Linked DNA regions of Homo sapiens: region 2 is linked to region 1. Evidence: fine-mapped expression QTL. A gene starts in region 1. The other region holds a variant in brackets. All regions are shown on one strand. Distances are from middle to middle.

Region 1 (4,306 bases):
GGTAGTGCCAGCAGGCGTCTTCTCTTCTCCAGGCCTATGGTCCTGCCCAGCACGCCATTTCAACTGAGAAAATCAAAGCCAAGTACCCCGACTACGAGGTCACCTGGGCTAACGACGGCTACTGAGCACTCCCAGCCCGGGGCCTGCTGCCTCCAGCAGCCACTTCAGAGCCCCCGCCTTTGCCTGCACTCCTCTTGCAGGGCTGGCCCTGCCTGCTCCTGCGGCAGCCTCTGGTGACGTGCTGTCCACCAGGCCTTGGAGACAGGCTAGCCTGGCCACAGAATTAAACGTGTTGCCACACCTGCCGGCTTCTGAACTCTGTCCTTGGCTTCCTGCACCCTGCGTCACCACCTCCGGGGGCCCCCAGACCCTAACTAAAGCAGGTGGGTGGGGGAACACAGGAGTGGCCCCAGGGAGTGGCGGTGCACACTCAGCCCTTTGGGGTCTGATAAAGGGGCCCGCTGATGGCCTGACTGCTCTTCCCACGGCCATCGTCCTCCAGGGCATCTTGGAGGAGGTCTGGCAAGCCCTTGCGAGAGGAGTCAGGGCCTGGTCCCTCGGGCTGGCCAAGACCTGGGGCGCCCACCAGTGCTCCCTCCTATGAGCCCATCCCAGGGCTCCCCAGTGTCCTGTCTGCCCTGAGGCTCCTTCCGTGACCTGCAGGCTCCTTCCATGACCAGCCCCATGGGGCCTACCAGTATCCAGGGTCAGGTCGCACAGCTGCATCTACCCCACAGGCTCACGTTGACTCTGGAGGCCCCTCCCAGGTCCCTCTTGCACCCGGCAGGGCTGTGGGCAGGACACGGGTTCAGGCCTTGCCCTGGGAAGCCCCATACACAGTGGGACTCCATGGGGTGGTGCAGGGGCACCCTGGGGGCCAGGGCTGGTTGTACACAGGGCACCCCCACCTTTGTCAGCTCACTGGTCCTCCGGCCAGCCTCTCCAGACGGGCACTGTCATAACCACATTTTACAGACCGGGACACTGAGGCTCAGTGACACAAGCTCCGAGGTCACACCATGGGAAATCACAAACAGGGCCTGGCCCCAAATGCCACACTCCTTCCCCAGCCCCAAAGACCCTGCCCCAAGCATGAGTCTGCTCCATGAGAAACCGAAGTTTCTGGGCTCCTAGGGACCCTGTATCTGGCACCGGACAGCACCTGGCTGCTCAGGACGAATGAATGACGGCGTGATCCTCCACAGCCTGACTTAAAGGCAGGTTCCCCACGGCTGAGAACGCAGGGACCAGCTCTGGTGCACGTGCTGGACTCCTGCAGCTGCTGGACTGGTTGAGTCCTGACCTTGGCCAGCACCACGCTATTGCCAGAGGCACAGTGAGAGGCCACGGCGGCCTCTGCCCGCCCCACACTGCCGAGCAGAGTCCTGGTGGGGTGCCTGGGTCCCTCCCCATTCCAGTGGGAGCCTCCCCTTCACCAGGCAGGGCAGGGCAGGGTGGAAGAGCCTGACCTTGTGTCTGAGGGAGCCGGGCAGGTGGGAGCTGACCCTGGGTCAGAGGCCCCCTCCTGGGGCCACTTTCACGGCCCATGCTTGGCACCGTCAGCACTGGGTGGGGCCGGGCCGAGGGGCCCTCCACTTAACAGCAGAGTCAGCGTGCGGGGCCAGCGCAGGCTGATAACCGCACGGAACTTCCCAGGCACCCTGTGTGGCCGCACTGCTCCCTCTGGCCCAACCATGCCTCTGTCCAGCCACCTGCTGCCCGCCTTGGTCCTGTTCCTGGGTAAGTAGTCTGGTCCCACTCCTGAGGCAGGACCAGGGGCCCTGGCTTCTGAGCCTACCATCTGTGTGGCAGTGACGGACACCAGGGCTGATGCCTGAGCCCCAAAGGGAAGGAGGGTTGCAAGGTACTACCTTGGCCGGCCTGCAAGGGGGGTGACCTGGAATCAGCCCATGGGGTCCTCGGGCCTGCCAAGCAAAGGAAGAGGCACGACTCCCCTCCCAGTCTGGGACAAGAGGGCTCAGGAGGTGCCCCCAGCTCTGCCAGCCTTCATCTGCCACCCTTGGACTGGGTGGAGCTTGTGGAGGCCCTGGGCCGCCCGTCGATGCCTCCCATTGGGGGTCGCCCTCCCAGTGCCCAGTTCCCTGCTGGGCACTCTGGGTTCCTGCTACCTTTCTTGGGGTGCCCCATGGCCGGGTCCCCCTCCCCAGCCTCTTCAGGGCTGGAAACAGGAACGTGCTGTGCTTGGTCCTGAGCCGGGTGGGAGTTCTCTGTGGGTCCCAGCCCCTCCCTGCTCCATCTCCTGGTCTGAGGGGCATCCCCGGACAAAAGATGTCCAGTGCTAAAACTGAATAGTCCTAGGCAGGCTGGGATGGCTGGTCACCCTGCCCCCAGGCCACCTGGCTGTCAACCTCCCAGCAGCAGGGTCCTCAGGCTGGGCCTGGGTCCCCAACCACTGCAGGAGCCCTGGCCAGGCCGTGTGCAACTTCGTGTGTGACTGCAGGGACTGCTCAGATGAGGCCCAGTGTGGTGAGCCAAGACCAGATGGGCGGGCAGGGCCAGTGCGAGCAGGTCTGGCACACACCTGACCACCCACTCTCCCAGGTTACCACGGGGCCTCGCCCACCCTGGGCGCCCCCTTCGCCTGTGACTTCGAGCAGGACCCCTGCGGCTGGCGGGACATTAGTACCTCAGGCTACAGCTGGCTCCGAGACAGGGCAGGGGCCGCACTGGAGGGTCCTGGGCCTCACTCAGACCACACACTGGGCACCGACTTGGGTGAGGCCAGGGCAAGTCTCTGTGCGCCCCTGTCCCAATACCCTCCTTGCTCCCTGCCCCGTCTCCTGACCTCTCACCTGCGCCAGGCTGGTACATGGCCGTTGGAACCCACCGAGGGAAAGAGGCATCCACCGCAGCCCTGCGCTCGCCAACCCTGCGAGAGGCAGCCTCCTCTTGCAAGCTGAGGCTCTGGTACCACGCGGCCTCTGGAGGTGCACCCTGGACCCCCAAGGCTCGTGGGGGGTGCCCAAGGGGAGGGCGGGTGGGCAGCTGGGGACAAGCAGGGCCGCAGCTGCCCTGGGACCCCTGACATTGCAGATGTGGCTGAACTGCGGGTGGAGCTGACCCATGGCGCAGAGACCCTGACCCTGTGGCAGAGCACAGGGCCCTGGGGCCCTGGCTGGCAGGAGTTGGCAGTGACCACAGGCCGCATCCGGGGTGACTTCCGAGTGAGCTGGGAGGGTCTGGACGAGTGGGGGCCTTGAGGAGGGGTCTGGGCCCTGACTTAGGTCCTAAGAGCCTGTTCTCTTCAGGTGACCTTCTCTGCCACCCGAAATGCCACCCACAGGGGCGCTGTGGCTCTAGATGACCTAGAGTTCTGGGACTGTGGTCTGCCCAGTAAGGCACCGCCTCTTCCTGTTCCACCCCCGGGAGGGCCCCCACCTGCCCACTCCCCTGCTCAGACCCTGTCTGCCCCCGAGTGCTCTCCCACTCCTGGGGCCTCGGTGAAGGGTTAACCCTGCCCCACCCAGCCCCCCAGGCCAACTGTCCCCCGGGACACCACCACTGCCAGAACAAGGTCTGCGTGGAGCCCCAGCAGCTGTGCGACGGGGAAGACAACTGCGGGGACCTGTCTGATGAGAACCCACTCACCTGTGGTGAGGCCGGAGTGGGGGCCCAGAGTGAGGCTGGGAGACTGGACGCCTCGGTGGGGGCCCTGGCACTCATCCAGGAGGGGGTGCCTTGGATCCTTGGATGGTCCTTCTTGGGGTGTGGTTGCCAGGGCCCCCCTGGAGCTGGGGCCATACGGCTTCAGGAAGCACTGCCTGGTGGCCCTGACACGCCCACCTCCTGCCCTAGGCCGCCACATAGCCACCGACTTTGAGACAGGCCTGGGCCCATGGAACCGCTCGGAAGGCTGGTCCCGGAACCACCGCGCTGGTGGTCCTGAGCGCCCCTCCTGGCCACGCCGTGACCACAGCCGGAACAGTGCACAGGGTGAGGCCCACAGAGGACCCGGCCCAGGCCCTGCCCACGCAGCCACAGCCCAGTGGCCCTGGCCCACTCCCGTCCTTTCCCGCAGGCTCCTTCCTGGTCTCCGTGGCCGAGCCTGGCACCCCTGCTATACTCTCCAGCCCCGAATTCCAAGCCTCAGGCACCTCCAACTGCTCGGTGAGATGGGTGGGGCTCACAGGGCCTCCCTGCTCTCCGTGCTGGCTGCCCCGGTGCAGGCCCCCAGCCAGCTCTTGGTTCCACAGCTGGTCTTCTATCAGTACCTGAGTGGGTCTGAGGCTGGCTGCCTCCAGCTGTTCCTGCAGACTCTGGGGCCCGGCGCCCCCCGGGCCCCCGT
Region 2 (4,375 bases), 35 kb after region 1:
AAAAAAAATAAATAAAGTGCACAACCCAGTAGATTAGCACACCGGCCATGTCGGGCGGCCGTCACCACTGTCCGGTTGCAGAGCATTACCTCACCCCAAAAGGAGACCCCATAGCCTTAATACCTTACTTAAGTGTGCAGTATTCTTTTAGTCCTGTTTCTCATAAATGTTACCCAAATTGAGGCGCCGCTCTGCGCCCGGCACCGGGGGAGGCGGAGGGACCCGCAGGTGTCGGGTAGGTGCGGCCGCCCCGCCAGGGCCCCGCGTCCCGCGCGCGACGCGCGCCTCGTGGGAACCGGTGTCGCCCGGCTTGGGCTCCCGGCTCACCTCTCGGGTGTGCGGCAGGGGTCTCCGCCCCGGGGCCACGGGAGGGGAAGCAAGGGCCTCGCTGTCTCGCCGCACCTGGGGAAGGGACCCAATTAGCGCGGACCCCACAGCGCAGCACCTCACCAGCTCCCCGCACCAACGCCCCGGCGCGCTCTTTGAGGAAAAAGCAGAGGGCGACTTAGGTACCCACGCCGTCTCAGCGCCGACCAATCGGCGCACGCTGCGGCTCCTGCGGGCTCGCTGGTTGGCTCCGGCGTCAGTCCGTCAGGCGCGCTCGGAGCGGGGCGTATCTGGCCAATGGCTCTCGCTACAGCTTCCTGAGGGCTGGCTGGTTGGCTCCCATGTCCGTCCGTCAGGCGCACGCGGCGGAGCGGCGGCGGCGGCGGCGGCGTTGGGGGCGGTAGCTGGGCGGGCCCTTAGTTCCGGGCGCGCTGCGACCGTTGGGTGAGGCGAGCGCGGGGTCGGGTGCGGGGTCGGGCGCGGGCGCGGGGTCGGGTGCGGGGTCGGGCGCGGGGTCGGGCGCAGGCGCGGGCACCTCTCAGGGAGACTCCGGGCCGGAGCGGGAGCGGGGGCGGGAGAGGCCGCGGGGCGGGGGCGGGGCCAGCCCGAGGGGATTTCTCTGAGCCGCTGGGCCGGAAACCAAGTCCGAGCGTGGCTGGCGCGGGAAAGTTCGGGAACGCGCGCGGCCGTGCTCGGAGCAGCGCCAGGGCACGGTCCGGGGTTTTGCGCGGGGTCGCGGCTCCCAGTACCGCCTGAGGCCCGTGGGCGGCCCACCCGGCCCTGCCCCGTCCCGGGTCCGTCGCTCCCCCGCACCCTGTCGCCCCTCCACGCTCAGCTGTGGGCCCCTCGTGTCCCCGAAGCCCCGCACCCTCAGCCGGCTGCGTGCTCGGGAGGGTCAGGGGCGCCTCCGACCCCTGAGTTTGCCAGCGCCCCCCAGCCAGGGGTCGGGGAAGACCAGTGAGGCTGGGGGCGGAGCCGACTCTGCTGCCTTCCTGCCCAGTGGCTGGGGAGACCCAGGCTGAGCCTGGGTGAAAAGTCCCTCTGGCTGCTGGGAGGGTCGGGGGCAGCAAGGAGCCAGTGCGGGGATGGGCTGCGGTGGACCGGGCCGGGATCGGGGCCGGGGCCTGGTCCTGGCAGTAGCAGGGGATGTTTGTGGAAGGTAGAGCCGAGAAAAAGAGGAGTTGCAATGTCTGCAAGAATCTGGCGTGAGCAGCTGAAGGCTGGTGCTTCCTAGGCCAAGATGAAGGAGTCACAGCGCCCATGGCCTCTCGGGAGGCGGCCAGATGGGCAGCCTGGGGTCAGGGGAACGGTCAGGGCCAGAGCTGGGTATTTTGGAGTTGTCATTTTGAGGCCC[C/G]GAGGGCTGAGGGTCAGTGCAGAAGAGCACCAAGCCTCCACTCGGTGTAGGGCCGACAGGGGGTGGGGTGTCTGGCAGCCGGTGAAGACGGGGCTCGGAGGAGGAGGGAGTCTGGTCTGGGTCAAGTCAAGGGAAACTAGGACTGAGAACGGACCCTGCTCTGTGGCCACATGATTTTGAAGGGACGGAATTACTGCCCTGTAACTCAGTCTCTCTCCCTGTTAATAGCCCTAGTTTTTAATAAGAGGAACTGAATGTATTAATGGGTGGACACTTGTAAGGTTCAAGATCTCCTCTTCTACCACGCTTGCTTCTGATACTTTTGTATAAACAGTTGTTAAGAGTTTAGGTTGTTATCAAGCTTCTATTTGGTATTATTTTGAGCCTGAAAAAGATGGGGTTACATATAAAATTGTAATTTTATTTATTTATTTTTTGAGATAGTTTTGGTCTTGTTGCCCAGGCTGGAGTGCAGTGGCTCGATCTCGGCTCACTGCAGCCTCCGCCTCCTGGGTTCAAGCGATTTTTCTGCCTCAGCCTCCCGAGCAGCTGGGATTACAGGCGTGCACCACCACGCCCGGCTAATTTTTTGTATTTTTAGTAGAGATAGGGTTTCATCATGTTGGCCAGGCTGGTTTCAAACTCTTGACCTTAGGTGATCCACCCGCCTCGGCCTCCCAAAGTGCTAGGATTACAGGCATGAGCCACCGCGCCCGGCCATGAAATTACAGTTTTAAAGTTAACTTCTAGTATTTGGAGGGCCTCATATTCATGGCTGCATGCAGATCAGTGTTCCTGAATATTACTCAGATGAGCTTTTATAGAAGTGGGTTAGAATCAGGTGCCATTGACGCCTGTAGTCCCAGCTACTCCGGAGGCTGAGGCAGGAGAATGGCGTGAACCCGGGAGGCGGAGCTTGCAGTGAGCCGAGATCGCGCCACTGCACTCCAGCCTGGGTGACAGAGCGAGACTCCATCTCAAAAAGAATCGGGTGCCACCCAGTGAACTCTTACGTGGAGTCCAGTATTGTATGAAGCAGTTGTGTGCTGTTGGTGGAGACATGAATTGAGGTTTGAATCTCCAGCATTTGGGGCATCTTGGAGTCTGCTTGTGAGAAGGGCGAGGCCTGGGTTGAACCCAAGCGTTTGCGGCGACTAGGTGACCCCTGCAGCGGCCAGGTTGCACCCATATCTGATTTGATGTCATGGTTTGGGCAGTGTTTGACTTGTGTAACAATACAGCTTGTCCTTTTGAGAGTCACCGATGCCACCAAACCATGTTCACACACCAGAGTCAGGATGCCAGGTCTCAGCTGCCTGATGACTCCAGCTTAGTGAAGGCCTCTGATTTCTTGTGGGGGTGTCCCATTGTGAAGGGAACACACAGCTCGGCCCTACCAGCAACAAGGGTGCCAGATGCCCCCACTCTCCTGTGGAGGGGAGTCTCGCTCTGTCACCCGGCTGGAGTGCAGTGGCACGATCTCGGCTCACTGCAACCTCTGCCTCCTGGGTTCACGCTATTCTTCTGCCTCAGCCTCCCGAGTAGCTGGACTACAGGCACCCGCCACCACGCCCAGCTAATTTTTTGTATTTTTAATGGAGACGGGGTTTCACCATGTTAGCCAGGGTGGTCTCGATCTGATCTCGTGATCCGCCCACCTCGGCCTCCCAGAGTGCTGGGATTACAGGTGTGAGCCACCACTGAGGGGCTTTTTTACGTTAAAACTTGTTTGTTTGTTTTTCTTTTTTTGTTTGTGTGGTTTTTTCTGTTTTTTTTTTTTTTTTGAGACGGAGTCTCGCTCTGTCCCCCGGTGTGAGCCACCACGCCTGGCCTTTTTTTTTCTTTTTTTGAGACAGAGTTTCGCTCTTGTTGCCCAGGCTGGAGTGCAATGGTGCGATCTCGGCTCGCTGCAACCTCTGCCTCCCAGGTTCAAGTGATTCTCCTGCCTCATCCTCCAGAGTAGGTGGGATTACAGGCACCCACCATAATGCCCGGCTAATTTTTGTGTTTTTAATAGAGACAGGGTTTCTCCACTTTGGTGAGGCTGGTCTCGAACTCCTGACCTCAGGTGATCCACCTGCCTTGGCACTCCCAAAGTGCTGGGATTACAGGTATGAGCCACCTTGCCCGGCCTTAAAACCTGTTTTTGACATTTCTTTGCCATTTTAACTTTTTTGTTATTTTATTTTTATACCTGAGGTCTTGTTATGTTTCCCAGGCTGGTCTCGAACTCCTGGCCTGAAGTGATCCTCCAACCTCAGCCTCCCAAGTAGCTGGGATTACAGGTGCAAGCCACTGTGTCAGTTGGTCACCGCATGTGTGAGAGTTCCCCCCACACTTATTCAGTCGGTCACCACTTGTGTGAGAGTCGCCCCTGCATGCTCATTCAGTCGGTCACTACATTTGTGACAGTCATCCCCGCATGCTCATTCAGTCGGTCACCGCATGTGTGATAATCACCCCCGCATGCTTGTTCAGCTCGTCACCGCGTGTGTGAGAGTCCCCACCGCACGCTCGTTCAGCCGGTCACCGCGTGTGTGAGAGTCCCCACCGCACGCTCGTTCAGCCGGTCACCGCGTGTGTGAGTCCCCCCCGCACGCTCGTTCAGCCGGTCACCGCGTGTGTGAGTCCCCACCGCACGCTTGTTCAGCCGGTCACCGCGTGTGAGTCCCCACTGCACGCTCGTTCAGCCGG

The links. PIP is the estimated chance that this variant, and not a neighbour inherited with it, causes the effect. A credible set is the group of variants that fine-mapping cannot tell apart.
Region 2: its variant is the best candidate, but not a certain one, in a credible set for the expression of MAMDC4 in whole blood (TOPMed, PIP 0.50).

Annotation. Positions count from the first base shown.
Region 1 is chr9:136,850,723-136,855,028 of GRCh38, forward strand. It overlaps MAMDC4 (MAM domain containing 4), which reads left to right and starts at 1,624. Exons shown (of 27, transcript NM_206920.3): 1 at 1,624-1,740; 2 at 2,380-2,487; 3 at 2,563-2,736; 4 at 2,823-2,948; 5 at 3,055-3,185; 6 at 3,270-3,354; 7 at 3,489-3,614; 8 at 3,817-3,954; 9 at 4,040-4,128; 10 at 4,215-4,306. The coding sequence starts at 1,695. It overlaps PHPT1 (phosphohistidine phosphatase 1), which reads left to right. Exons shown (of 3, transcript NM_014172.6): 3 at 33-302. The coding sequence ends at 125.
Region 2 is chr9:136,885,771-136,890,145 of GRCh38, forward strand. TRAF2 (TNF receptor associated factor 2) reads left to right here and starts at 746. Exons shown (of 11, transcript NM_021138.4): 1 at 746-771. It overlaps MIR4479 (microRNA 4479), which reads left to right and starts at 963; the gene lies at 963-1,033. It overlaps LOC105376326 (a long non-coding RNA gene), which reads right to left and starts at 484. Exons shown (of 3, transcript XR_930448.2): 1 at 328-484. RefSeq lists silencers at 171-300, 521-1,330 and enhancers at 707-1,442, 1,443-2,178. The variant C/G (reference allele first, on the strand shown) is at 1,682.